Linked DNA regions of Homo sapiens: region 2 is linked to region 1. The links come from fine-mapping of genetic effects on gene expression. Tissue or cell type: whole blood. Region 1 holds a variant in brackets; the other region holds the start of a gene. All regions are shown on one strand. Distances are from middle to middle.

Region 1 (4,353 bases):
GAGTTTGAGGCTGCAGTGAGCTATGATTGTGCCACTGCACTCCAGCCTGGGCAACAGACTGAGACCCCGTCTTTTTTTTTTTTTTTTTTTTCAGATGGAGTCTCGCACTGTGGCCCAGGCTGGAGTGCAGTGGTGCGATCTCGGCTCACTGCAAGCTCCGCCTCCCGGGTTCACGCCGTTCTCCTGCCTCAGCCTCCCGGTAGCTGAGACTACAGGCGCCTGCTACCACGCCCGGCTAATTTTTTGTATTTTTAGTAGAGACGGGGTTTCACCGTGTTAGTCAGGATGGTCTTAATCTCCTGACCCCGTGATCTGCCCACCTCGGCCTCCCAAAGTGCTGGGATTACAGGCATGATCCACCGTGCCTGGCCGAAACAGTTTATTAACATGTGCCGCCTGTATACACGCCTGACCCTGTCTCTTAAAAAAAAAAAAGATTGCTTCTGTACTGAACATGTACAGACTATTTTTTCTTGTCACTAGTCCCTAAACAATACAGAATTACAACTATTTACATAGCATTTACATTGTATTATGTATTATAAGTAATCTAGAGATGATTTAAAGTGTGTAGGAGGATGTGAGTAGGTCATATGCAAATACTATGTAATTTTACATAAGAGACTTAAGCATCCGTGGATTTTGGTAACTGAGGGTGGATCCTAGAACCAATCCCACATGGATACTTATCATTTCTTACGAGTGTGACATTCGGGCAAGTGGACTTGGAAAATGATCTGGCATGGTATCAAAAATCAAGCAATTGGCTGGGCGCGGTGGCTCACGCCTGTAATCCCAGCACTTTGGGAGGCCGAGGCAGGTGGATCTCGAGGTCAGGAGATCGAGATCATCCTGGCTAACACCATGAAACCCTGTCTCTACTAAAAATACAAAAAATTAGCTGGGCGTGGTGGCAGGCACCTGTAGTCCCAGCTACTCGGGAAGCTGAGGCAGGAGAATGGCATGAACCCGGGAGGCGGAGTTTGCAGTGAGCTGAGATCGCGCCACTGTACTCTAGCCTGGGCGACAGAGTGAGACTCTATCTCAAAAAAAAAAAAAAAAAAAAAAATCAAGCAATTATCATTTACCTCTTTACAGAATTGGTATACATTTTCTTTAAATATACATAGAGTATACATATTTAAGGTATATATTTATACACACATACCTTCTCACTTGGAAGTTATGAAAGTATTTTCTAAAATTTTTTTTCTGTTAGCTTTATATCTTTATTTGGCTTAAAATTTTTAAATCCCCCCTGCCCTGCCACCAAAAGTATTTATTATTTGATATGATGTAAGGATTTTTATTTTTCTTGAAAACAAACAAAACAGCACCTGTTGAATAGTTCATCTTTCCCCACAATTTGAAAGGAAACTTTAGGTTGCTATATAGTATACATATGCACTTGAGTCTATTTCTGGACCTTATTCTTTTTCAGTGGCCAATTTGTCCCTGCTTAAATATGACAATGTTATTTTTTCTTCTTTTTTTGAGACAGAGTCTCACTATGTTGCCCAGGCTGGTCTCACAATCCTGGGCTCAAGCCAGTCTCCTCCCCCAACCTCCCAAAGTGCTGGTATTGTAGGCATGTGCCACCACGCCTGGCCAACAATGTTTTGATAGCTTTATATTTTGATATCTGGGACAGCATGTCTCCCATATTTATCCCTGTACTCAAAATATGTGATGTATGTTAATCAACTCTTCATGTTTTTATTAATAATTTATATTATTTTTAACTGGTAGAATCTAGGCATGGTCAAAAGAATAAAAGGAAAAATTAATCACACTCCCAATTCTGCATCTCAGCCATCCAGTTTGCTTCTCCAAAGGCAACTAATATTCTAGCTTCTTGGGTATCACTATATGGATATTCTATAGATCATATTTGAGTTGTTTCTATCTTTTGGCTTTTGCAAAGGTGAAATGGACATTCTTAAAA[AAAATATATAT/T]ATATATATATATATATATATATATATTTTTTTTTTTTAAGACGGAGTCTCGCTCTGTCGCCAGGCTGGAGTGCAGTGGTGTGATCTTGGCTCATTGCAACTTCTGCCTCCCAGGTTCAAGCGATTCTCCTGCCTTAGCCTCCCGAGTAGCTGGGACTACAGGTGCATGCCACCATACCCAGCTAATTTTTGTATTTTGCAGAGGTTGCAGTGAGCTGAGATCATGCCATTGTACTCCAGCCCAGGCAACAAGAGCAAAACTCTGTCTCAAAAAAAAAAAAAAAAAACTTAGCCAGGCATGATAGTGGGCAACTGTAATCCCAGCTACTAAAAACACAAAAAATTAGCCGGGCGTGGTGGCGGGTGCTTGTAGTCCCAGCTACTCAGGAGGCTGAGGCAGGAGAATGGCGTGAACCCGGAAGGTGGAGCTTGCAGTGAGCTGAGGTCACGCCACTGCACTCCAGCCTGGGCGACAGAGTGAGACTCCGTCTCAAAAAAATAAAATAAATAAATAAATAAATAAAATAAACTCAGTCATTCTGGTGGATAACACAGATAACTTTGTGGCTTTCCTCTTCACTATGGGGGATAACAGCTTTAACTGTTTGCTATTTGTAATTCCTATTTTATGTAATGCCTGCTTAAGACTTTAGCATGCTTGGGAAGAGGATGTACATCTTTTCCTGGTTTTCATTATGGATTTACAACTTTGCAAAATGTTTACATCTTTGAGCCACCTAGAATTAACTGTAATGGAAGGTAAGCTGTAGGAGTTCAACTCTCGTTTTCCAGCTGGCTACTCAGTTGTCACAATACTATTTATTGAACAATTCATCCTAGATAAATATAGAATCAATTTTTGTGCATGTCCATTTTTTATCTATTGGCAACTAATAAGAAGTAAAACCAACACTGCAGACAAGCATATGAGAGAAGGTATTTTAATTGAGATCTTTTATAAATTGCAATTTGAGAGACACAAATCGAGCAAGCAGCTAAATCATATTCCATACAGACAAGCTGGGCAGGGGCTTATAAAGGTTCCTGGCAAGTTTATACAAGTGGAAAATTTTAGCACAGTCTATGATTGACAATGGCTGATTGACAGCTTAGATGTCTCTTGGTGATGAACGACCTAATTTGGCACAGCTGTCTTCTCAGGAGATTTGTGATCAGGCCCAGTGTAAACAGTTCACATCAAATTCAGCTGCTTCTTTAGGATGTTTGTGATTTGGTCCAATTTGAACATGTCAAATTTCATCTGAGTATATGGGTGATGGGGGTCCAACTCCTTATGCCCTCCTGGCTCCTTTTTAGAGACCTCTGGCATAATCATCTCCATTTTGGATTTCTTTTCAGATTTTCCCCTTTTGATTTAAATATTTCCTTAGAAACCACTGAGATCAATTATTTCAGTAAGCCCTTTGGTTCTGGAATAGATTTGTCCCAGGAAGTCATGTCCCATGGAGGAGGGAGTCATGGTAATGATAGTGGATGATCTGTGTCAAATGGAATAGTCCAAATTTGAGCAACAAGGAGGAGTTGAGGATGTGGGCCCCAATTGTGGTGCACATATGTGGTTAGGGTAGGATTCATGATTGTAGGCCTAATCTGTCAGTTCAATGTGTTGAGCCACCATAATTTTAGTTTCGTTGACAGCAACAGTGTGGCATCAAGCTGAGAGAGGAGAAAAGAAAGAACCAGCTAGGAAGGCGGTTAGGGCAGGTGCTCAGTAGAATTCTTTCAAACAAAGGAACAACCTGAAAACTCAGGCTACAGATACAGATAAGGGAACTAGCACAGGCAGCTTGCCTAGGATATACCCATAGCTGCACAGATAAGGAAGCAAGGCCCAACATAGAAGCACCTTTGTTCTTTGTGTAAGCAGCAGCCTTCCAGGAAATAGTTTCTTTTCCTTTTGTGGGCATGTAGATGGTGGGCTGTGGTGAGTACATTCCTTTCCTTTTTTGGGCATACTTTGGACTGTGAGCCAAACCTCTATGAATCATCACTCCAACACTAGGCTGGTTGTGAGCCAAGGCTCCAGTTGGTCCTTTACACCATCATGCCATTTTCTAAGTGGTGCCTTTTCTAAAGACAACCACCAGTCAGCCAGCACACTAGGGGTACAGGGTGGAGCTACCAGAAATTCACAACTTATGCAATTTCAGTTATGCAAATGAAATGCCCAGACCCATCTGGTTCCTCTGGGTTCCTCATAACAGCCTTTGTACTCAATTGTGAAATGGCAACCCTCTCAGGTCCCCTCTCTGCAGTGGAGAGCTTTCCTCTTTCACTTATTAAACTTTTGCTCTAAACTCACCCTTGGTGTCCACATTCCTTACTCTTCTTGGTCATGAGACAAAGAGCTCCAGGTAATACCTCAGGCAACAAGACT
Region 2 (4,159 bases), 34 kb before region 1:
ACCAACAGTAATAAAATATAATAAAAACAATCAAATAAACACAGCACAGACAGAAGCAGACCTCTGCCCAGGTAACTTCCACCACAATTCCCTTACCAAAGACCTCTTTCCTTATTTTGCTAAGATTAACAACTGATTTTTCAGTACTATGCCAACAACATTTCTTCTCAAGCTTTGCTGTCAATTCCATTGTGACCCACAGTTTAATTTAAAACCGATGTTGATTCACTGAGCTAGTAATTTTATTCGGTAATAGGTGAATTACTCCATAGTTGAGTGTGAATAACCGCCTGGTTAAATCAGGGCGGGTTTCTTAGAGGTGATACACTTACCGTTGAGCACAACTTTACTCTTTAATTATCGTGTACATTCCCATTTCCCTCCAAACACGTCAGTCCCTCTCCACACAGTGTTTACTTCTTTGGTCCTAGGGACAGCAAGAAACATTTTATAATAAAAGAGCACATGCTAATGTGTTTACTAGATATGACACTGCTGTGCAAAACTGTTTTCTTTTATGGCTGCACTGAAAGCATGCTAAGTTTACTGAATTCTTATTAAGTGTCCTAAGTAACAGAAATAGAAACTAGGTCTGGCCTGAAAATACCATTCACTTAAGTTAGAATTTATGTGCGCTCCTCTAGGTCCGCTATTGTAGTATCACTGCAAAACAATAATACTTTATCTCTGCACTTGTCTTTATTGGATTAATATTAAACAGAAAAAAATCCGACTGCACAGGGGAAAAAACCTAAAACCTTAACATGCATGCACATTAACAGTGACTGAAACATGATTAAAGCTAACACATTTAGCAGAAAAATGCAATCCCCAAACAAGCTCTGCGGCCCGCCTACTGAAATGCACCCGCCCGCCACTAAATGAAAATGCGCCTCAAGCTCATACACATCCTTATGTTAAGACAGTATGCACTCGATGTACTACAAATAAATTGTTTTCACGGAAATGATTCCCCGAAAGTTTGCTGCTGAACTCAGGACCCTAAGGACGTTTGCTTAGGGAATCCGTGTCCCTCGAGAACACCTAAGATGGGTATGCGTTTGTGCATTTAAAAATGCCTCAAGGAACTATTGCTGAGGAACAGAAACCATCGCCGGCGCAGAAGCGTTCGCGGACCACTTGGAGATAGATGCCAGTACAGCAATTCTGTTCCAGGAGGCTTCGGCTTAAGAGGGCCGGGGAGGAGGAGAACCCTCGGGAAATAGCAAAAAAAAAAAAAGATTTTTCTTTTTCACTCCAGCGACAGGAAAGCCTTAAAAACATAAGCAGCTCTCATACCCACCCGCCTCACCAGCCGCGCCTCGCAGTTCGACAAAATGCGTCCTAGCCTTCGCCACTCGCGACCTCTACCGCGCAGAGCCAGGCAATGAGGGAAAACAGCCAGCGAGGCCCGCCCTCCGGTGCAAGGCTCGGCATCCGCGGAGGCCCAGGGCCGGCCCCGGTGCGGCGGGCAGAAGCAAGCGCGGCGGCCCGGCCCAGCTCCGGTGGGCGGACGGCGGGACGCGCGAGCCGGCGGGGCCCGAGGCCCGGGTTCCGGGGCCGCCCGCGACTGCGTCTTTGCCGCAGAACAAAAGCGCTCTGCGCCGCGCGCAGGCCCGGACCGCGAGTGCCTCTGGCTCCCGGCTCCCGGCCCCCGCCCCGCCCGGACCCCGGAAGGCGGAGGGACCTCGGGGTGCTCGTCTCACACTTACCGACAAAGGGAAGAGGACCACCCCGGCAAGCGGGGAGAAAACCGGCGGCCTCCCGGGCCCCAGAGTTTAAGTCAAGTGGGGTCCGCCTCCAGGGGCGGGTCGAGGAGCCAGGCCCAGGATCCAGGAACAGCTACGCTCCGCCTCACGCCCGAGGCGGTGGCTGCGAGGGCCGCGCCGCCGCGGTCCTAGTGCCACCAGAGAAGCCGCGGACCCGGCCCGCAGATAACACCCGGGCTTGCAGAGCGCTTTCATCTGCCCGACGCGGAAATCTCCTGCAGCGATCTTCTACCTTCAGCGTGCATCCGCAGCACCCAGAGGGCACGTTAAAGAGAGATTGAGAACCACCAGCAAAACTGCTGATTCAGTAGGTTTGGGGTGGGGCTGAAAAATGTGCATTTCTAACAAGTTCCTGAGACCGACTGTTGCTGCTGGCCTCAGGACCAATTTTTTCTATAAAGCGCATGGAAGTCAGAGTGCACCCAAGAGATTGTTAACCCTTAAAAAACAGAAAAAAAAAAAAGAAATCAACAAGTTAGAGGCAAATAAGTGTGAAAGAAAGTGGATAGTCTATTTGGGGATTCTGAAAGTCCCTGAGGAAAGTTGACTTTGGAGACCAGATCACGAAGCACGACCTCTTAATTGCCGACCTTTTGTTATAGATTAACTCCCTTATTTTCTTGTTCCCAGCTCAGACCAGATGGCATCTGAGATAAAATACGCATTGAATAAGATAAATGACCGCTTGACTATTACATCCTTAATGTGGAATGTTAAATAGACCCTTCCCAAAAAGAAACACTGCCTTGAACCAATCAAATTGCTATGCGTTAACCTTCTATGGAAAATGTTGACATCCTGTTAAGCTTCCCAGACCCTGCCTGTGTAAACGACCCTCAAACTTCTCCCTTTCGAAGCACTGACCCCCATCTTTTGGAGTCTGTGTCCTACCGGGTCGCCATCCTCAAACTTTGCACTCAAATAAACCAATATTTAATCATATTGCCCGAATCTCATTATTAAGGTTTACGTAAGCGTTTACTTAGTAATGAAGGTTGCAACCAGGATGGCAAATCAGAGATTGTGCCACTGGAGAGGGGCAAGGGAGCTTATGTTTATAGGAATTTATTTGTTACATAAATTGTCAGATTAGTTCATTGGTGAATTAAACGAAGAAGTCTTTAGTCATTACTAGAAGAGTGCGTTTGCGTCTGTCAGAAACAAAACAAAAAAACTACATACAGAATATTCTTTCTTTTTTGGGGGGGGGACGGAGTCACGCTCTGTCGCCCAGGCTGGAGTGCAGTGGCACGATCTCGGCTCACTGCAAGCTCCGCCTCCCAGGTTCACGCCATTCTGCTGCCTCAGCCTCCCAAGTAGCTGGGACTACAGGCGCCCGCCACCATGCCCGGCTAATTTTTTGTATTTTAGTAGAGACGGGGTTTCACCATGTTAGCCAGGATGGTCTCGATCTCCTGACCTCTTGATCCGCCCGCCTTAGCCTCCCAAAGTGCTGGGATTACAGGCATGAGCCACCGCGCCCGGCCAGAATATTCTTAAAGATTGGGGGTGGCCAGGTGTGGTGGCTCAGGCCTGTAACCCCAGCACTTTGTGTCACGCGCATCCGTGTGAAGAGACCACCAAACAAGCTTTGCGTGAGCAACAAGACTGTTTATTTCACCTGGGTGCAGGCGGGCTGAGTCCGAAAAGAGAGTCAGCAAAGGGTGGTGGGATTATCTTTAATTCTTATAGGTTTTGGGAGAGGCTCCGCGGAACAATGTTTTGCGGGCAGGGGGTGGATCTCACAAAGTACATTCTCAAGGGTGGGGAGAATTACAAAGAACCTTCTTAAGGGTGGGGGAGATTACAAAGAACCTTCTTAAGGGTGGGGAGAATTACAAAGAACCTTCTTAAGGGTGGGGGAGATTACAAAATACATTGATCTGTTAGGATGGGGCAGAAACAAATCACAATGGTGGAATGTCATCAGTTAAGGCTATTTTCGCTTCTTTTGTGGATCTTCAGTTGCTTCAGGCCATCTGGATGTATACGTGCAGGTCACAGGGGATATGATGGCTTAGCTTGGGCTCAGAGGCCTGACAGTTTGGGAGGCTGAGGTGGGTGAATCACTTGAAATCAGGAGTTTGAGACCAACGTGACCAACATGGTGAAACCCTGTTTCTACTAAAAATATAAAAATTAGCCAGGCGTGGTTGTGGGCACCTGTAATTCTCAGCTACTCGGGAGGCTGAGGCGGGAGAATTGCTTAAACCCAGGAAGCAGAGGTTGCAGTGAGCCGAGATCACGCCACTGCACTCCAGCGTGGGCCACAGAAAGAGTCTGTCTCATGAAACAAAACAAACAAAAAAAGATTGGGGATCAGGCGTGGTGGCTTATGCTTGTAATCCCAGCACTTTGGGGAGGATCACTTGAGGCCAGGAGTTTGAGAG

The links. PIP is the estimated chance that this variant, and not a neighbour inherited with it, causes the effect.
Region 2: RESF1 starts here. The variant in region 1 is fine-mapped to the expression of RESF1 in whole blood (INTERVAL, PIP above 0.99).

The regions. Positions count from the first base shown.
Region 1 is chr12:31,922,495-31,926,847 of GRCh38, reverse strand. No RefSeq gene overlaps it. Among named protein-coding and RNA genes, the nearest start is that of RESF1, 35 kb to the left of the region's middle. The variant AAAATATATAT/T (reference allele first, on the strand shown) is at 1,946.
Region 2 is chr12:31,957,045-31,961,203 of GRCh38, reverse strand. RESF1 (retroelement silencing factor 1) reads right to left here and starts at 1,789. Exons shown (of 6, transcript NM_018169.4): 1 at 1,713-1,789; 2 at 333-427. LOC105369725 (a long non-coding RNA gene) reads left to right here and starts at 1,900. Exons shown (of 2, transcript XR_931503.2): 1 at 1,900-2,076; 2 at 2,400-2,711. RefSeq lists a silencer at 1,479-1,818 and enhancers at 2,871-3,664, 3,668-4,159.